2 linked regions of the Homo sapiens genome follow. The protein of the gene in region 2 interacts with the protein of the main gene of each other region in a pairwise test. Each region holds a gene or a part of one and is shown on either strand. Other genes may lie near its edges.

Region 1 (3,747 bases), 7.5 Mb from region 2:
GCTGGAGTGCAATGGTGCGATCTCAGTTCACTGCAACCTTCACCTCCCGGGTTCAAGCGATTCTCCTGTCTCAGCCTCCCAAGTAGCTGAGATTACAGGCATAAGCCATCATGCTCGGCTAATTTTGTATTTTTAGTAGAGATGGGGTTTCACCATGTTGGTCAGGCTGGTCTCAAACTCCTGACCTCAGGTGATCCACCCACCTTGGCCTCCCAAAGGGCTGGGATTACAGGTGTGAGCCACTGCGCCCGGCTAGGCTTCCCTTAATATGACCTAGTTCTGTCCCTATGAACAAAGACATGTTAATTTACATTCCTAGGGAGATGACATTGTAAGAATTTTTAAACGAGTGCTTTCAGTTTGAGGTTTTTTCTGCCCATTAGATTATAATTTGTGAAACTGTTTCCTCTGTAGTTTTTGCTTCTTGACAAAAGAGAAGCAAATTTTTCCTTACCTTTTCCTTTTCCAAGTCTGCAGTGTCTAATTCCTACCCCGCTTCCTACAAAACACATCCTAACCCTTGGAAACTCATAAGCTTGTTTCTCTTAGCAATAAAAACCTAAGGAATCTGAAATATATTCATAATAAAGTTATAAAGCACTCACGAAGTTTAATGTCTGCAAGTCTCCCTACAGAGTACCCCCATATGTGCATCTTGACAGAAGACCATGTCCAAAGCCAAGGCGCTTTTAAGTGACAGTATTCTCCATAAAATCACAAAGAGTAACACAAGGCTGGGTGTCGTGGCTCACGCCTGTAATCCCAGGCGCCTCGCGAGGCAGATGGATCACCTGAGGTCAGGAGTTCGAGACCAGCCTGGCCAACATGGTGAAACGTCTTCTACTAAAAATACAAAAAGTAGCCGGGTATGGTAGCGCAAGCCTGTAATTCCAGCTACTTCGGAGGCTGAGGCATGAGAATTGCTTGAACCCGGGAGGCAGCGGTTGCAGTTAGTGGGGATAGCAGCCACTGCACTCCAGCCTGGGCGACACAGTGAGACTCCGTCTCAAAAAAACAAAAAAAATTAAAAACAAAAAAAAAGCAACACGATAGAAACAACTCCTTCTTATAGGCCTGCCTGAGTTTTATTTCCTGCCCTCCCCAATCACCCACCCTAGGTGCTTTGACAGGCAATTCGCGCTGTCTGGCACGCAGAAGCAGACGCCAAAATAAAAACAAAAACAAATTTTAAAAAAAAATTTGTTAAAAAGAAGGGGTTAGACTGGGCCCAAAGTTCTCCCCTCTCCCCCAAAGATCCACGAAGTGACCATTTCTCCGCGCCCCTGGGTCCCCACTCTCTCCCGTAAAAAGCCAGCTCACGCACCCTGCAGCGCTGCCAAGATCCCCACGATGCCTGTCCCCGCACCCAGTTCGATCACCTTCTTGCCTCGGAAATCCACATTTTGACTCTCGAAATAATTGCACAGGCTCAGGGCCTACGGGAGAAAAGACAGAGAAAAAGACAGTCGTGAGGATGGCTCCATATGGGAGAGGCGGAGTCCGGGATCTGGACCTCCCACGGACCCTCACCCGGCGCAGCCCATTCCTCACCGCGTCCCACACGCGCGCCGCCACCCCGAGGCGGGACCCAAAGTTCTGCGTGATGGTCAGCACATGCCCACAGAAACAGAACTGGCTCTTCTCCGAGTAAGAGTCTGCAAAGAGCCCGACCTCCCGCGGGAACACCGATTCCGACTCAGATTCGGGATCTGGGCCGGGGTCCGCCATCCGGCCCGCCAAGGGAGTGCCTGGGCACCGCGGCCGGCGCTCAGATCCCGGATCCGGAGCGGGGTAGAGGCTGGGGGCCGCGAGCCGTCGTGGTGTCCCTGTGGAACGAGCCCCGCCTCCCTGAGTTTGCCCTCCTTCCTCCAGTTCGATTTCCTGGAGGTGGAATGAGGAGCTGCCCCTCCCGCCCCGGCCCCGAGCGCACACTCGACGAAACCCACACGGGACCACAAGAGTCAGACCGGGCGGACTGGTCCGAGACCAGGAGTAAGGGGACAGGAGCGAGGACTGATGCCACTGTAGAAGGCGAGGTCTCTAGACCCCTCTCACCTGTGGGGTGCACAGGTGCCTGCAACCAGGATGGTAACCCAGACCAGGCAGAAGCAAGCTAAGAGAAAACGTTGGGTCCCTGGGCCTGGCCTCGCCCTCCCAGTTGGAGGCTAACGGTGCGGAGGTTCCCTCCAGCACTCGCTCCTTACAGCCCTCCCCACCTAGCCCAGCCCAGCCCAGCCCAGCCCAGCTGAATTTGCTCTTGGGTCTTTAAGGGGCGGGAACTGCCACCAACGCGCATGGCTGCGTCATTAACTTGCGCCTCTGGCCTGCGCCTCCACGTGGATTTGGTAGAGAAACCCCGGACTGGGATCATGGCAGCCGAGACTCGGAACGTGGCCGGAGCAGAGGCCCCACCGCCCCAGAAGCGCTACTACCGGCAACGTGCTCACTCCAACCCCATGGCGGACCACACGCTGCGCTAGTGAGGAGTGGGCAGAGGGAGAGAGAGGAGGGCGGGATTCTCAAAGCAGCCGGGAGAGCAGTTGTGCTGCAACTGCTGGGAGGATTTGGGGTAGACCCGGGAGGATCAGATGGGTGACGTCAGTTTTTGGGGGTGGGACCGGGAGATTCGACCGAGAGAGGAGTTGGCGGGTTGAGAGTGGGCGTGGCGTTCGGGCCTAAGTCTGGGTAGCGGTGCTAAGTTTGGGAAGAGAAATAAATTGTTACTGAGACTGAAGTGATAGAGGCAGAATGTCGTTTCCATCTTTTGCTTTTGTTTGTTGGATTTAATAAAAAGGCAAACATATACACAATCCTGCCCGCACCTTACCTTACCTTCCCTCCCCGCAGAGCACAAACACAAAGTAGGATCCCAGTGCATTAGGCAGCCAGTCTCGGGAGAAGGGGAACTTGTGCCCCAGAAAGGGCAGTTACCCGGCCAGGGTCACATCAACCGCCAGAAGTGGAGTTGGGCAGGTCAGCGTTTATGGGCCTCATGATGGTCCTATGATTCACACTGGGAGTTAAGGGTGGTTTCCATTGTCCCTCTTAGAGGCCACAGGGCCCAGTGTTACAGAATTTTTGAGAAACCCTCCTCCCTTTTACCTCCCACCCTCACCCACCCACACACTCTCACAGTACCACTTCTGCAATGGTGTGACCAACCTTCTCATGCTTCTTATGTCTTCTTTCCAATAGCCCTGTGAAGCCAGAGGAGATGGACTGGTCTGAGCTATACCCAGAGTTCTTCGCTCCACTCACTCAAAATCAGAGCCACGATGACCCAAAGGATAAGAAAGAAAAGAGAGCTCAGGCCCAAGTGGAGTTTGCAGACATAGGCTGTGGCTATGGTGGCCTGTTAGGTAACACTCAGGCCCTCTTTTTGGGGTGAGAAGAGGCCTAGTAGCTTCTGCTGCCTCAGCAACTTTTGTGGGGGGTCATAATTGGCCTTTCCCCTTTCGTCCAGACACTGGTGACATCAGCATGGAGAGGCTCCACCTACCCTCTACTCTGGGTCTGTGACCTTTGCCCTGGAGAGTGGAGGGGGCTGCCTCAAATGCTTCTTAAAACCTGGGTTGTCCTTTCTGGCGTCAATCCCTACATGAGCCATTTCATCTGCCAGGTTCCGGGTCAGTGAGCTGGTCAGCACAAGCATCAGAGATTAGCCGTTGTGGCCAGTGATCCTGAACTGTCTTTTCTCAGAGATTCTACCATCTCCCCTCCCCTTTGCCCCTCCCTCGCCAGATCTCA
Region 2 (3,747 bases):
ATGTAGAGAAAATAAGACAGATTAGTATGGTAAAAGTATATATGCACTTTAGAATGAGGATTTAATTCTAATACTACTTCACTTCTTCCTGGTAGCATATTACTTACCTATGCCTCAGTCTCCTTAGCTGTAAAATAGGGATAAAAATAATCTCAGAGATATTTGTAAGAATTAAATGAGATATCAGTTATAAAAAACATCTAGCACAGTGTCTGGCACTTATCATGCACTTAGTAACTTTAGTTCTTTTCTGCCACTCTTAGCATATTTATTCAAGCCTTTAGAATAGTGGTTGGCATTGCTGACAGTGATGTCAGCTATGTTGATACAATGAACTCTCTATTTTTACTAACATGAATTGGGTTGTAATGATATTGCATTTTTTATAATTCTATATTTTTGTATGTAAGGTTCTTCACTAAAATATTTTAAATATAGGCATAATTATTGCAATCCTTTGAAACATGCTTTACACTTAGGGAGCTTCTAAATTCCTTTCTACAAATGGCTGTGCCCATTTTATTTTTGTTTTTAAACAAACATTTGGACTATGGGCAAAGAACTTTGCAAAGTGTTGTGGGGGAAGTAGAAAAACAGACACTTATGTAACACAAGGCTATAAAAAAAGAGGAAACGGAGGGAATACTGAAGAGCTTCTTCAGTATTTCCAACTACCTAGGTTCTAGGTACCTAATTAAATAGTCATGTTATGTGTCATTTAAATCCTTTATTCATTGCATTACAATTTATTCACCATTACTTTATCTGGGTCATCTACCCTTAGTCCCATTATAATTGCCAATGCATTAAGGGTGACATTTGCCCATTTGCTATATGTAATTCACAGGATGTGGTGTTTTTCAGTACCAGATGTTTTGAGGGGAGCCACTTGCAATGGACTGTTTTTTGGTGTATGTGTTTTAATAGTTTGCCAGAACTGAGTTTGATTTGAAACAACGTTCTTGATTTTCAAATACAGCATTTTCAAACAAATAGTGTGATGTACAAATTACCATCACTTTAGTTCACGTTGAAATAATCCACACTCTAAATCTGTTTGACATTTACCCCTTAAGTATTTTGGATCAATAAATCATTTCTGTATCATCTAGCATCTTAAAATGTTCGTAAGTAACTACTTAATACCCTACATATCCAGGTCCTGTCCCATTAGTTTGAGGGAAAAAATATATTATAGTAATTAAGACATAATTATGTTGTCTTGAAAAGCTAAGGGTCATTTGGACTTGATTACCCAAGGAGTTATCAGTGCCAAGGAAAATTAGGCAACTACAGGCTTGGGCCTGTAATTAAACATCTAGGACTGACATTTTGTTCATCAGAGGTGGCACCTTCTGAATGAATTACACCATTTCATTTTAGACAAGCTACGGTACATACAAAACAAGTGTGTGGAGGGGGTTGGGGGGTGGACATGAATAGAGATTGGAGGTGGAGAGAAAGACCGGTGTAAACTTAAGCATTTTGTTGTGAAAAACTACTGTTCAGCCAGCCTGCCTGGGCTCCATATATGGTGTTCAAATATAAGTTTGGGACGAGCACCTTTGCAATTTTGGCCAAGAACACACACACACTCACCCTCCTCTGCTAGAGAGGGCCCGCTCACCTGGAACGCAGGCGGCTGGTTCTCCGTATTACAGTGAGTGCTCGTTCTGTATGTATAGGATGGCCAAGTAACTAACTGGCAGCCCTGCTCCTGCCTCACTCTCCCACAACTTTTTATCCCCTCACCACCAACGCTCTCAACAACCCCTGACACGTCTTCCCACAGGTCCCTGGCTCGCTGTCCGGTCTCTTCGTGTTGGTTTGTCCGTTTCCCACTCCTTCAGCGGTCTCAGGTGGAACACGCCAGGTGGGCGCTTGGCTGTGTTCTGGGGTCCCGAGTTGGAAAGGGATGCCCCCAGGCAGAAGGCGGCCGGCAGCCCTGGGGCAGAGGAGGACGAGGGGGAGGAGAGGAGCAGGAGGGCAGGGCAGAGAAGGAGGAGGAGGAGGACGGTGCAGAGGAGGAGGAGGAGGAGGAAGAGGACAGGGCAGAGGAGGAGGGAGTTGGCGGCCGCCGAGCCCCGGGCAGCGGGCCCCGTCCGCGGCCGGCGCGCTCCGTGGTCCTCCCTCGCTCGTCTCCTATGCTCATATTTGGACTCGGCTGCCCGTGCCCAGGAATTTCCCGTCATGCCTCCCGCCGCCCCGTCCGTCGCCCGGAGCCGGGGAGGGAGGGAGCGAGGTTCGGACACCGGCGGCGGCTGCCTGGCCTTTCCATGAGCCCGCGGCGGACCCTCCCGCGCCCCCTCTCGCTCTGCCTCTCCCTCTGCCTCTGCCTCTGCCTGGCCGCGGCTCTGGGAAGTGCGCAGTCCGGTAAGTTCGGGCTCCCCTCCCCTCTCCTCCTCGCCTCACCCCTCCCACCCCGACCCTGCCACGTTAGGGTGTGACCCCGAGCCGGGATTCCATTCTGCGCCTGCTGCGCCCCCTCGGCCACCTGCGGGGACAGCCCCTGCCTCAGCCGAGAAGGGGAGCAGAAGGGTTGCGCCCCGCGCCAGCGGTGAGGGGCCGAACGGAAGGAGGTCAGGGCTGGTTTCCCCCCACCCGCCGAAGGGAGGCGTCTGGCAGCCTCACTGACACCTTATCCTGTCCCGGGAGCGAACCTGAACCCGCGGGAGCCTCTCGCCCCGCGCGGGCCCAGGAGAGAGGGATCTGGCGGGGCAGCCCGCGGGAGGCAGGGGAGGGGTCCATCCCGGAGCCCTCTGCTCTGTGCGTCGACCCTGCCGGGGTTGCCGCTCAGATAACGGGCCCGAGGCGTGGGAACCGGCCCGCCAGGCCTGCGCTTTTCGCCGCGCGCCTCGGAGAGGACGGGGGTGCGGGGCGGCGGGCAGGCGGCAGGGAGGGGCGCACCCGGGAGCGCACCCGCCGCCCGCCCTCCCTGCGCTGCTGCCCCGCTGCTGGGCCAGACTCCAGCGGGCCCGCCTGGCATTTCACAGGCCAAAATCGAACAGAACCCCGAGTTTGCCAGGTATCAGTTTTGCTTTGTTTTTAAGCAGAAAAAGGCATCCAAGTCTATTTTTGAAGTTTTACACTGGGCTATTTCGAGTCAAACTATATGAATGAAAAGTGCTGTTCCTGCCTTATTTGGTTTAGGGCTAATAGCTATCGGAAGTGGCAGTTATGAAGTCGTTACAGTAAGACTTTATAAGATAATCTTCTTGAATCATGTGGGAACTGTTGGGGGGAATTTAATATCAGATTATTATTTTAAAAAGCAGTTATTTTAAAGTACAAAGGTAGGGATAAAGGTAAATGTGAAATTGCATGGACTTTTACGTTTGTGATGAGTAGTCGTCAAAGCTTCTTGCTTCTTAATTTTATCGGGAATGGAAGAATATAAATTATAATTCCTTAGAGCTGAGATTTCTTAGGAGATTTTAGTTTGCTTTTGTTTTTTCTACCAATAGACTAAATTGTCAAATAAGATATGGCAAACTAGGACTCATAAATTAGTTGAAACATGACTCTATGAAGCATAGATTATATTCAGTACTCTCTGGTTTATCTCTTCATATTTTCATTTGCAGCGCTGGTGGCAAGATCGATTTTCAAAAACAATTTTGTCTATAAAAAAACTTCAGGGTTCATATAACTTATAAAATTGTCAGTTCAGATTAATGGCAGATATTTACAATATTTAACTTTATTCAATTTGCAATTTGTAAATAGTAACTTGAGCAGTGATATCAG

The links. The genes of interacting proteins can lie anywhere in the genome.
Region 1: the proteins of MSRB3 (region 2) and EEF1AKMT3 interact in binary tests that used the Homo sapiens proteins (3 or more experiments, as listed by UniProt).

What each region holds. Positions count from the first base shown.
Region 1 is NC_000012.12:57,770,706-57,774,452, reverse strand, and holds the start of EEF1AKMT3 (EEF1A lysine methyltransferase 3), read right to left. Parts: upstream 1,840-3,747; 5' UTR 1,729-1,839; coding exon 1,552-1,728; intron 1,437-1,551; coding exon 1,325-1,436; intron 1-1,324. Other genes in the region: METTL1 (tRNA (guanine-N(7)-)-methyltransferase), read left to right, coding at 2,370-2,479, 3,196-3,359. UniProt on the Homo sapiens protein: Protein-lysine methyltransferase that selectively mono-, di- and trimethylates 'Lys-165' of the translation elongation factors EEF1A1 and EEF1A2 in an aminoacyl-tRNA and GTP-dependent manner.
Region 2 is NC_000012.12:65,276,493-65,280,239, forward strand, and holds the start of MSRB3 (methionine-R-sulfoxide reductase B3 isoform 2 precursor), read left to right. Parts: upstream 1-2,190; 5' UTR 2,191-2,276; coding exon of another isoform or gene 2,277-2,373; intron 2,374-2,464; exon of another isoform or gene 2,465-3,025; intron 3,026-3,747. UniProt on the Homo sapiens protein: Catalyzes the reduction of free and protein-bound methionine sulfoxide to methionine. Isoform 2 is essential for hearing.